2 separate regions of the Homo sapiens genome follow, and region 2 is linked to region 1. The links come from fine-mapping of genetic effects on gene expression. A gene starts in region 1. The other region holds a variant in brackets. All regions are shown on one strand. Distances are between the middles of the regions. Region 1 holds the start of ACOXL-AS1 (ACOXL antisense RNA 1). Region 2 overlaps BCL2L11 (BCL2 like 11).

Region 1 (5,525 bases):
GAGGTTGCAGTCAGGCCAGGCTGGGTTTCAGGGAAAGGGCACAGGGATCCAGCGCACCAGGCGACCGTCTGGATCTCTTTCCTAGCAGCCAGCCGCGCACCTCGCCAGCCTCGGCGGGACCTCCGCTTTGCCACCAAAATCCCCGAGAGTGGCGGCCCAGCGGGTGCCAGCCCCCGGCCTCGGCCACAGCTCTGGGCGTCGGTGGAGCGAGCGTCGTGGCAGCTGCTGGCGGGCCACCACACTTCCCGCCACACCCGTTAGAGCTTGGCTCCCAGCTTGGGCCGCCGGGAGCGCGCCTCTTCCCGTGGCCGCGGCTGCAGCGGTGCAGGGTAGAAAGCCCACGCGGCCCGCGGGTTGGAGATTCCGGCGATTGGTGCGTGGAGGTAGGTGTGTGGAATGTTAAAGGTCGAGATCACCCTCCGGGCATCATCCTTCACCGAGTCGCACAAATCCAGCAACTGCAAAACACAACACAATGGGACAGGTCAGATGTTGGCACACTTACAGCCATCTAGTGACAGCAGCTTTCAGCCCACCAAGCACCCGCACACACAGCGGCCCCGGAAACTAGTTTCCCTTTGGATTCTCCTGTGGAAACTGTTGGCCATGAATAACCCTCGGAAGCCTTTTTTGTTTTAGACATTCCCAACTCTGACACCTAGCCCAGTGGAAACCCCGGCTTTTCCCGTAAGGGGGTGGGCGTGGACGTGGGGTCGGTCGGCTTTGCCCCCAAATTAGCCGGGAACTCGAGACCAAGGTCTGAGAATTTATTAAAGCTCCCTCCTTGGTCCTTCCTCCCTGGTCCTTCCCTCCGCTCCTCTCTCTTTGCCTCCCCTGTCGTCCCCTCCTCTCCACCTCTGGAGTGCCTGGGGTGCCACCCTCTGGCGCGCAGAGGGAACTGAACAGGAAGAGCCTCCGAACAGGTGAACCACTAGAGACCTGCTCCAGTCTCCCCAGACTAGCGCCTTCGGTCCTGACCTGGCTGGCAGTAGGCCATGATTCTTGAAATTCAGTACAGTGAGACGGCGGACCAATGCTAGGCATCTTCCGCCTGGCCGCTGCGGAAAATCCATCTGCTGTTAACGCCAATGCCAAGGAACGCCGCGGATGCCCTTGGTTCTGGCAGCCACTGGAAGGCAGGGATAAGACATTCCCGGCGGATAGGAGAGGGAGATGCAAGTCAGTGTTTTGGAAGCTGCACTGGTGTATTTTTATTTCATTTTCCATGGCTTAGGTGCCAATGTATTTTTTTTTTTATTTTCAGGAAAAAAAGCTACCAAACTAATAAGATTGTTTTTCTAAAACTACACAAGGGCAGAGGGACGGCTTTCTTTTCTTCTGATCTACACATTGTACTCCATTTTTCAAGTTTTCGGCCAGTGGTAAATTTGTTTCACTCCCCAAATCACAGTAAATCCCCAGGTTTTCATGGTTTATTTTTACAGGTTTAACAACATCACTTACACCAGCCCCACCTTTGCCCTCACATGGTGGTCATGTCTGAGCCGCACTGATGTTGTTAAGATCACAGTTTCCCTTGCAGCAGTCCAAAACGCCATTTCAGGTTTTCAGAGCATTTCAGGTTTTCAGTGAGGTCCCAAGGAGGAAGGTGGAGGAAATAGGGGATGGGGAATATAGAGGGTAGGGATATGGTGGGGGAAGAGCATGAATTGTAATAGTCCAACAATACATCTTCCCTGAAAATGTGCTCTATTACACCAGTAATTTCTAATGAAAAACTTCATTCTTCACACACTGTGGTTAAGCATCATCAAATCAGTACTGAAAAGACCTTTGATCGTATTTGCAAGATGCACTAAAATGAACTTTCACTGACCAAGATTTCAAAGTTTGTAATTAATACTCTTGAAAAATCCCTGACTAATCTGTCAACTCTCAACGTCTTTAACCACACAGTTCAAAACCATGAGGTGGCGTACACAGCCCCTAAACTTTCCACATATTGTCATATGATTATTCAAGATAATTTTCCCTTTGGGTTTGCATTATGAAACTCAACCAACTTTGGTAATATATTCACCGGTGGGGGAAATACAATGATTTGAATGAGTGTAAAATAGAGTATGGGTTTTATCTATCTGGTGCCAAAAACAGAACGTAGGGCCAGAGGTAGGAATTAAATGAGGCAGATTTCAATATAAAGAAAATTTTAAAAAAATAAACTTGAAAAGGAACCCAATGGCTGGTGAAAAGGAGGGTTTCTTCACTCATAAGTGTTCAGGGAGTGTGCCCTCCAATGGCACCCTAGAGAAGAAAAATGAACTGGCTGTGAAGAGGAGTTGACTGCCAAGATTCTTTCTAAATCTAAAGTTCTGGAGCAGTTTAAAATACTCCTTCTAGCCTTCTCCATTTTTCCTAGACTGCAACAGAAACCTCAGAATGATTATTGTCTCAATGGACGGATCCGGCATCATTCCTGTTAGTTATTGTTTGACTCTTAGTTATTGTTTGACTCTGATTCCAGGTACCCACCCACCTCTGTTCCTGGCTGTCAAGATGATAATAATAATTACCATCCTTTCACTCACAAATGGTATGCTGGATTCCTACCCAGTGTTAGGTACAATTCTGGACTTTAGAGGTTTAATGGTACACACTACAGGAACAGGTCTCACATCGTGAAGCTGTTGAGGCGTTTTAAAAATTTTTAAAAATATATGATCTCTTTAATACAAAATAAACTTGAGAAGATAATATAGCATTGATTATTACACAGTTACAGTATTTTTATTACCAGGGGGTATTTTTATATGGGGCTAAGCAGTGTATTATTAAAGTTTAGTTTTGTTACCAAACATGCTTCCATACTATAAGCATAAAAATTGCACATAGTGTAGGGGTCCTCTGCCCTGCCAGTTTATGACCCATTTATGCTGGACAAAGTACTTCAAGCTTACCCATATCTTTACAAAGAAAATTCACCAGCTTTTGAAAAAGACAAATGAATAGGTATACTTTAAAAATAAAAAAGTATGAACAAGTTATAGGTTCTTGCAAAAACATTTTTTAAGGTCAAACCTAAACATGGGCACTATTGCTCTACAAGCAATAAGAATGTACAGTCCACTGGAAATAGCCAGTGAGTGGAATTTGAGAATATCTGCTTTAAAGAAAGCAGAAGCACTCAGCCCTCAAGGGATGACACTGTGTTTGACTATATTAATATGTATATTTGGGAGTGAGGGAAAAATTGTAACATCAGTTTGGCTTCCCACCTCCATCTAGTTGCAGTACTCAATTTATTTTTCTGCTCTTTTTGACTCTCCCTACAGTTTCCTTATTTCAGTTGGGAGAGTAGGATGGCCAAGGATGGGCAGTGACTAAGCTTTGCAGTCCTCTGAACAAACCATATTTTCCCAGCATGGCATGGTGTTAGTCCTATAATAGATGTTCAGGGTGGGAAGTGCCCAGTACACTTGGAGGGACACCCCAGCTATTCCTAGGACTCCATGCAGAAGGTTTTCCTGCCTCTTCCCATATGTCTCACCCCTGTTCTCAGCATAAGATGACCACATGCTGTTTTTTGTGAAAAATCCCTTACCCAAACTTGAAATGTCCCTTCATTAGCCCCTTTCGTCTGGCTACCTTGGTAGAGTCTTTTTCTCCATCCCTTTAATCTGGGCTGAGTTATGACTTGCTTTGCCAGTAGAATATGGGGAACATGTCACTGTGTGATTTCCAGAGTTTAGGCCTTAAGAAGCTTTGAATCCCCCATTATCACTCTCCTATAACCGTGAGAATACCTGCTGTGCAGAAGCCCAGTCTAGCCTGCTGGAGGACAAAAGGCCACGTAGAGATGGACCAAGGTGCCTTGGCCAACAGCCAGCACCCACTGCCAGATATGAGAGAGAGGCCATCTTGGACATCCTAGTCCTGTTGAACTCAGATGACTGCAGCCACAGGAGTGATCCCAGGTAAGACTAGCCAAAGAACTGTCCAGGCTGCCTGCCCACAGAATAAGTATCAGTCATTATCACCGGTTAATGCACAGAAATAGAAATTTTTAACCTGACTAAGCAAAACAACAAATAAACTTACTTGCTATAAGGAATCAATTCCACCTCCTTTCCAAAAAGAATCTCTATGCAGCCAACTCTTACTTTCTAAGGGATTGTTAGATATTGGTGAGCCATTAATGTAATTTCCTGTCCATTATTTTTCAGTTGACTTCATTTTAGGTTAACTAGATTTTGAGCTAGAAACTTTACAGGAAGGGGAACCTTAATTAATGAACAAACATCTTTTAATCTAAAAGATGTGATGAGGGAATAAGATTAAAGTGGTTGGTAAAATGAGGTTCTGTGCTACTTGTGGCTGTCATTTATCACCTTTGCTTCTGCTGTGACACATAACTGGCATTCTGGCAGGTGCCTCTGGCCACCTTTATTCCATGCTTGTCTCGTGCAACCCTAGTCCCCAATCAACAATTCATAGCTTGTTACTCCAGCCTTTGCCAAGGATCCATCTCTGCTGTGCAGTATCTATGCTTTCCACATTCCATCCCGGAGGGCCAGGCAGGTAAAGGCATGAAGTACAGAAGGGAGCTACTTAGCTGTCTTTGACTTAGTCTGCTCTATCTCCAGCATCTTTATAACAATGCTATGTGGCAACATATGGCACTTTACATATGTAACCAAGGTCTTCGGTGTTCTGCCCCATGCTGACATTTCCTGGACAACTACTGTGTGCCAGATTACAGAGGAGGGCTTTAGGTTCACTGTCTTATTCAGTACTCATAACAACTCTATCAGGTATCAACCCATTTTACAGATGAGAAAACCAAGGCTTAAAGAATTTAAGTCACATAACTTGTAACTGATGCAACTAGAGTTTTAATCCAGGGCTTTTTTTTTCTAAAGCCTTGTCTACCCTTTTGCCTTCATCTTTTCCCCCAGTGCCTCACTGCTTCCAGTTGCTGGAGGATATGTGGTGCTGCACTGACAAATGCCTCCACCACTGTGGCAGACGTGTGACCCTTGACGTTCTTCCTAAGTCAGAATCTGTATTCTGTGTGTGCCTAGTGTGGAGAACATGGATCTGCCCAGCCACACTGGCTCAGATTCTCTGAGAGGACCAGGGCAGTAATGGTGCCCAGGAGTACTCTATGATGTTGCCACCGGAGGAAGGTGCCAAGGATATCGGCTTCAGAGCCAGCTACCATGTGAAAAGTCCAGCTTGATGACCTAGAAGGACCTTTACCTGCAGAAGGACAAGGCTTCAACTCTGTTCTGCAGATTCTCCTTCAGTAAATTGGGAGTGCCCTTCCACACTGGTCAACAGGCCCCTCCCTGCTGCTTTGGATCACCACCTTAAGTCAAACACAATTCAAGTGCCTTCAAAAGAGCAGCACATGGACTGGCAAATCGTGACTGGTGAAAATGGGCACAATCAAGTAGTTAACCTGCACCTATTCTCACTTTTTGCAGACTTCCAAACTCGCTGAATGCACAGAGGCCTTGGCCTGGCTTATCTCCTCCTCGCTCACTTATCCTGAAGAATTGCTT
Region 2 (5,000 bases), 45 kb before region 1:
CATCAGGCTGAGACAACTGTCCCCTCAGACCCCGAATGGCCCCCACAGACACCAGCCGCAGCTGCAGCTCCACTGTTTACACAAGCTCTGCCGCGCTTGTTTGACAGAATGGGATTGTGATAAGGCCAGGGCATTTCCCCTTTTCCTTCCATAACAAGATTGGAGGAAATCAGCTTTATGTAAGCGATTCCTGTAGAGGCACTCTGTAACCACAGTCTGTGATTTTTATCTGTTTTACACACAAGATTGCTTTGTTTTGATTTAACTTTCAAAATTACTTTGCTGCCTCTGTGTGAGAATAATTTAGGGGAAGGTTAATTTTAGTGTAGACTAATATTAATAGGTTGAAAGAGACTTATTCAAAATAAAACCACAACTTACTAAAATGAAGAAAGTGTACGCTATGATGGGCTAAGTAATCAATCCAGGCAGAGTTGTTTTGTGCCAACCTGGTGTCATTGCCATGCTTGGTGTGGCCAGAAAATGGGGCTGACTGGGTGTCCACAATCATCAGGACACCAATGAGGGGGCTGGGTCAACGTGAAGGACAGACCCCAACTGCTGACACTTGGTAAGTTTCATATTCCAGCACTGGCAGCGTCCAAGGGAAGAAATCTCCTGCCCACTCTTTGAGGACAGCAGGAGGCTGTGACCAAGCTTAAGTAGAAGTCACCTCACAAGAGAATCTTTCCAAGGTTTTTAGAGTTCCACTTTCATCTCAAATGTAAAGGATATGGGGTATTCAAAGACATGTTGGAGAGGGTGGGGAAAATGCAGGAAATTTTGGCAAAAGTTACACCCAATCCCTGACTCATGAGAAGATGCTACAGCATCCCAGTCTGCAAGTGTGCGGGGATGCCTGCCCTCTCAGACGGCGGGCATGACAACATGGCACACGCTTTTAAGCTGACAAGCAATTGCTTTTGGACGACATTCAACAGAGGAAGCCATTACCACGGATTCAAAGAGCCGTGCCAGCCCAGAAAGCATTTGACAGCTGGCACGGCCGGCTGGAGCTGCTGTTGGCTCGAAGTGTATGCCCGTATTGCAAAAGACAGCTGGAGGATGGGCAGCCCCTACCTCTGTAGACTGGCTGCCCTCTAATACCTGCAGCCATAAAAATTACTGTGGCTTATAGTCGGGGCCTGGTGACACTAAACTGGGGCAAGTGGCCAAAAGCTGCAGTGGGGCAAAGACGCAGAACTAGGACTGATGGCTCAACGCTGCTCAAAGCGCCAACAGCTTCAGCCAGCTCCAGTGAAATCTCCCTGCGATCTAGATACTGAGGAACGGCTGCTACAATTCAGCTCCTAAACCAGGGCCTTTGGTTTTGGGGTGGTATAAAGGGTCAGGAGGGAGTCTGAAGCAATTAGAGAAAGCCCCCTAAGATGGAATTTACTGGTGAAAGGTCAAAGTAAGGGCACACCCAGTGGCTTCTGGCCAGGGTAGCACATCCAAGATGGAATTGGAAAGTCAGGACTAAAGATGACAATCCCTGTATTGCAGGGGAGTTGCCAGTTAAAGGCAAGTATGACACTAAGACTGAGCCAGGAGCTGTCATTTGCAGTGTGAGTGGTTCCTCGCATCTAACATGGGCTAAGACAATAAACACACCCATAAGCGGATCATCAGCAGCCATGCCTTGACCGTCTTCCTGAGACCTGCTGTCTGCAGAGCTGGCCTCCCGCCTAGTGTCCAATAAGTCTGCGTCTGCTACAGTGGTTCTTAATCAGGTGGAAGAGGCATCTGTGAATCAAAAGTGCATTTAAGTTCTGCCACTCCCAAACTGGGTAATATAAAAAAGACAGACTGTCTTTCCTGATTACAAGCGTTTTTTAAAAAACTATTAAAATAAATACAATCAGGGAAGATGCTCCACTCCCTCCTGAAACTTCTGGGTATCTTCCTCTTTATGGGCTGAACTGTACACTGTGTCCCCTCAATTCATCTGTTGCAGTCCTAACCCCCCGGACCTCAGGCTGTGACTGTAAGTGGAGACAGGGTCATCAATAAGGTGATTAAGTTAAAATGAGGTCACTGTGGGGTGGGCTCTAATCCACGGTGTTCTGGTAAGAGACAATCAGGACACAGAAACCCACGGAGGGAGACCACGTGAAGACACAGGGGATGACAGCATCTACAGGTCTGGAGGCTAAGTCTGCACCATGATCACAGACTTCC[A/G]GCCTCCAGAACTAAGAAAAATAAATTCCTGTTGTGTGAGCCACCCAGTCTCTGGAACTCTGCACAGCAGCCCTAGCTGACTAATACACACTTTCACTGATGCTCTCAGTCTGTCACTCTTTAAGTGAAAACAATCCTTCTTACAGAGTTGGGTAACTCTGTTTTAGTCTAAATTGCAAAAATACTTTAGAAAGGTATAACAACTCATTTGGGTGAAGGAGATTATTTTTAAAGACCAAATTTGCTAGTAAGTTACAACTGAAGTGACCATATACTACAGTTCTCTCCTCTCTCACTTTCTCTACGCAGACACACATACACACAATCACAAGTGCACAAAGAGGAGGGCCCCACCCAGTTGGGTACTGTAATCTCCATAGCCTAAATCAAGAGCTATATGAGGACTGGGTTACCTGGAGGTAACTGCCTTTTGTGGCCATCCCATGTGTCCAGAAGATGACTCCTTCAACATTCACAACCTTGTGTGTCCCTCCAGGAACCAGTTCCTGACAGCCCCTGCCCCTCTCAGGGTAAGGGGCTCCAGTGGCCCTGTTGCTGACCAGCATCAGGTGGGGGGCCTGACTTCAAGGCACGTGTCTGTGTACCCACTAGGTCTGATGGTAATAGCTGTGTCGCCAGCACAAAACAGTAAACAAGATAATAAAGTAAGGACAATACAGAGGCAAATAAAATGAGAGGGAAAAAAACCACTGGCCAGAGAGGAAGTGGGGGAGCCAGGGCAGGAAGGCACCAGGGTGAATCCCCACATCAAGCCCCAAAGGAAGAGGAGAATTTCTTGGAAGGACAAGAGGAGAATGGGCAGTGCAGGTGGAGAGAGAAGCTGGGCAGAGGCAGCAAGGCCAACAGGCAGAAGGGGCCAGCAGTTCAGTAAAGATAATCTCAGTAGTGGATAAGTATTTATCATAAACCAGAAGGAAAGATTATGCCAAGTTGCAGGATTGCTCCCCCACAGACTGTGCCCTCTAAGTGTAAAGGCATAGGATTATGTGTCTACAAGTTCCTCAGCATAGACTTAAGCAGTCTTTCTCTGAAGATATGAACAATGCCCTTTGAGACGGTGTCGAGCATTCAACAGGGAATTCCTAAATAGTTCTTCACATGTCCCCATGACACCAGATGGCACAAGCTCATCTGGGTGGCAACCTGGGAGGAGCTGTACCACAGGAATGCCCTAGCGTGGGGTTCCTGCTGCCTTGCCAGGGGCTGGAGCTGCCACTGCAGCGAGGAACATTAAGTGCAGGGCAGAAGCATCTTCAATTTACACTTGGGACGACCAATTAAGTGTCAGGGAATTTAATGACATTCTAATGCCAAAATAATCACAGAACACCACTCTCTTGCTCAGTCCAGGGAAGCAGATGCTTGGAAAACAATAGAGGCCCTGGCCCCAGGGAACTGGTCAGGTTGAACAGCAGACAACTATAGAATGCAGCTTTGGATTCAGCTTCACTCTCCAACAGTGAGAGGAGTCGAACCTTTGAAAAGCTGCCTAGGGCACTCCAGGCCTTTGGACTTTGTGTGCCCAAGCTTGGGGATGGAAGAATTGCCATGGCCACCACTAAATGAAATAACCTAGCCCATGCTTTTCAGTCCCCACAACAACCCTGAGTGCCAGGGTAGCATTCCCTATGCTGTTTTGCAGCCAGTGACTACAGAGGTCAAGCAAGTGACTCAAAGTGCAGCTGAAGACAGTGGCAGGACAGGATGGGTACTCTTGGCCCACATGAAGATGGAATGCCAGAAGCAGGAAAGAAGTTAAACGAGGGCTTTCAGGCCAGCACCTTCCCTCCTCGCACACCCTGTGCCTGTGCCTGTGCCTCTGCTGGGAAGGGCCCGTTGCTCCTCAGACCTGAAAGGGGCCTTGTTTCAGGCTGAGCTGAGGCCACAGAGGTTCTGGAGTGCGAATTGAGAATCACTAAGTGATTCCTACAATGCAGCTCAGAATACAGCCCACTCATCCATGCTCCAAAGGCAGGGCTGACACCCACTGGGCCCAAGGACTCGGTAAGTACAACACAGACCTAGACATAGCATGGCTCAAAGGGGACTTAAATTAAGAAAGCGCAAATGTGTGTAACACAATTTAAAAAAAAAGGTTGAGATCAGACATGACATCAAGGAGTTATCCTGGGAACCAGGGGTGAGATGTGCTGTAAGAGAGCCACAGTTTAGTTAAGAGTTTCCTGGCAGTCAGAGCAACGAGGGAAAAACGACAATTTCATTGTCATATCAAAGCAAGCTCAATTCCTAATTCTAAGAGGCATTCAAAAACAAGGTATACCTATAGAACTCTGAGATGCAGAGGAATTTAACTTACTCAAAAACTTGTTTCTTACAGAATTTCAACAGTAAATGTATAGGATGTCCTGAAACTTATTTTTTATATATATTTAAGTGTTTATATATATACTATAAATTATTATACATTATATATAATAGGAGGCTGAATTTTGGACTGTGAGACCAGGAAGGACAGAGGGAATCTCTGCTCCAGGCTCAGGCAACTGAGGAAGCAGTCTCTCTGGTTGGTGTCTGATCCCCACAGGCTGCAGAAGAGAGGGCCTGGGATGGACATCCAGGAGCCTGAGAATACCCAGGGGCTGTCACGGCATCTTTAGGGACACTGAGGTGGCAGGGTGGGACATGGAACTAGGAGTCACCCCCCTGATTCTGTTAGAACTACCACTCCACGACTCGTTCATAACCCAGCAGTCTAAACAGCATTTTAACTGGCAACTAAGTGACACAGAAGTCAGAGAGAAAAAGGCCCAGCACACAGTTGAGCATGATGTGGAGCT

Evidence for each region.
Region 2: its variant is fine-mapped to the expression of ACOXL-AS1 in atrial appendage (GTEx, PIP above 0.99).

What each region holds. Positions count from the first base shown.
Region 1 is chr2:111,112,549-111,118,073 of GRCh38, reverse strand. ACOXL-AS1 (ACOXL antisense RNA 1) reads left to right here and starts at 2,486. Exons shown (of 4, transcript NR_122074.1): 1 at 2,486-2,554; 2 at 3,776-3,935. It overlaps ACOXL (acyl-CoA oxidase like), which reads right to left. Exons shown (of 18, transcript NM_001142807.4): 18 at 1-458. The coding sequence ends at 258.
Region 2 is chr2:111,158,165-111,163,164 of GRCh38, reverse strand. The region is part of intron 3 of BCL2L11 (BCL2 like 11); the gene reads right to left. Among named protein-coding and RNA genes, the nearest start is that of BCL2L11, 40 kb to the right of the region's middle. The variant A/G (reference allele first, on the strand shown) is at 2,182.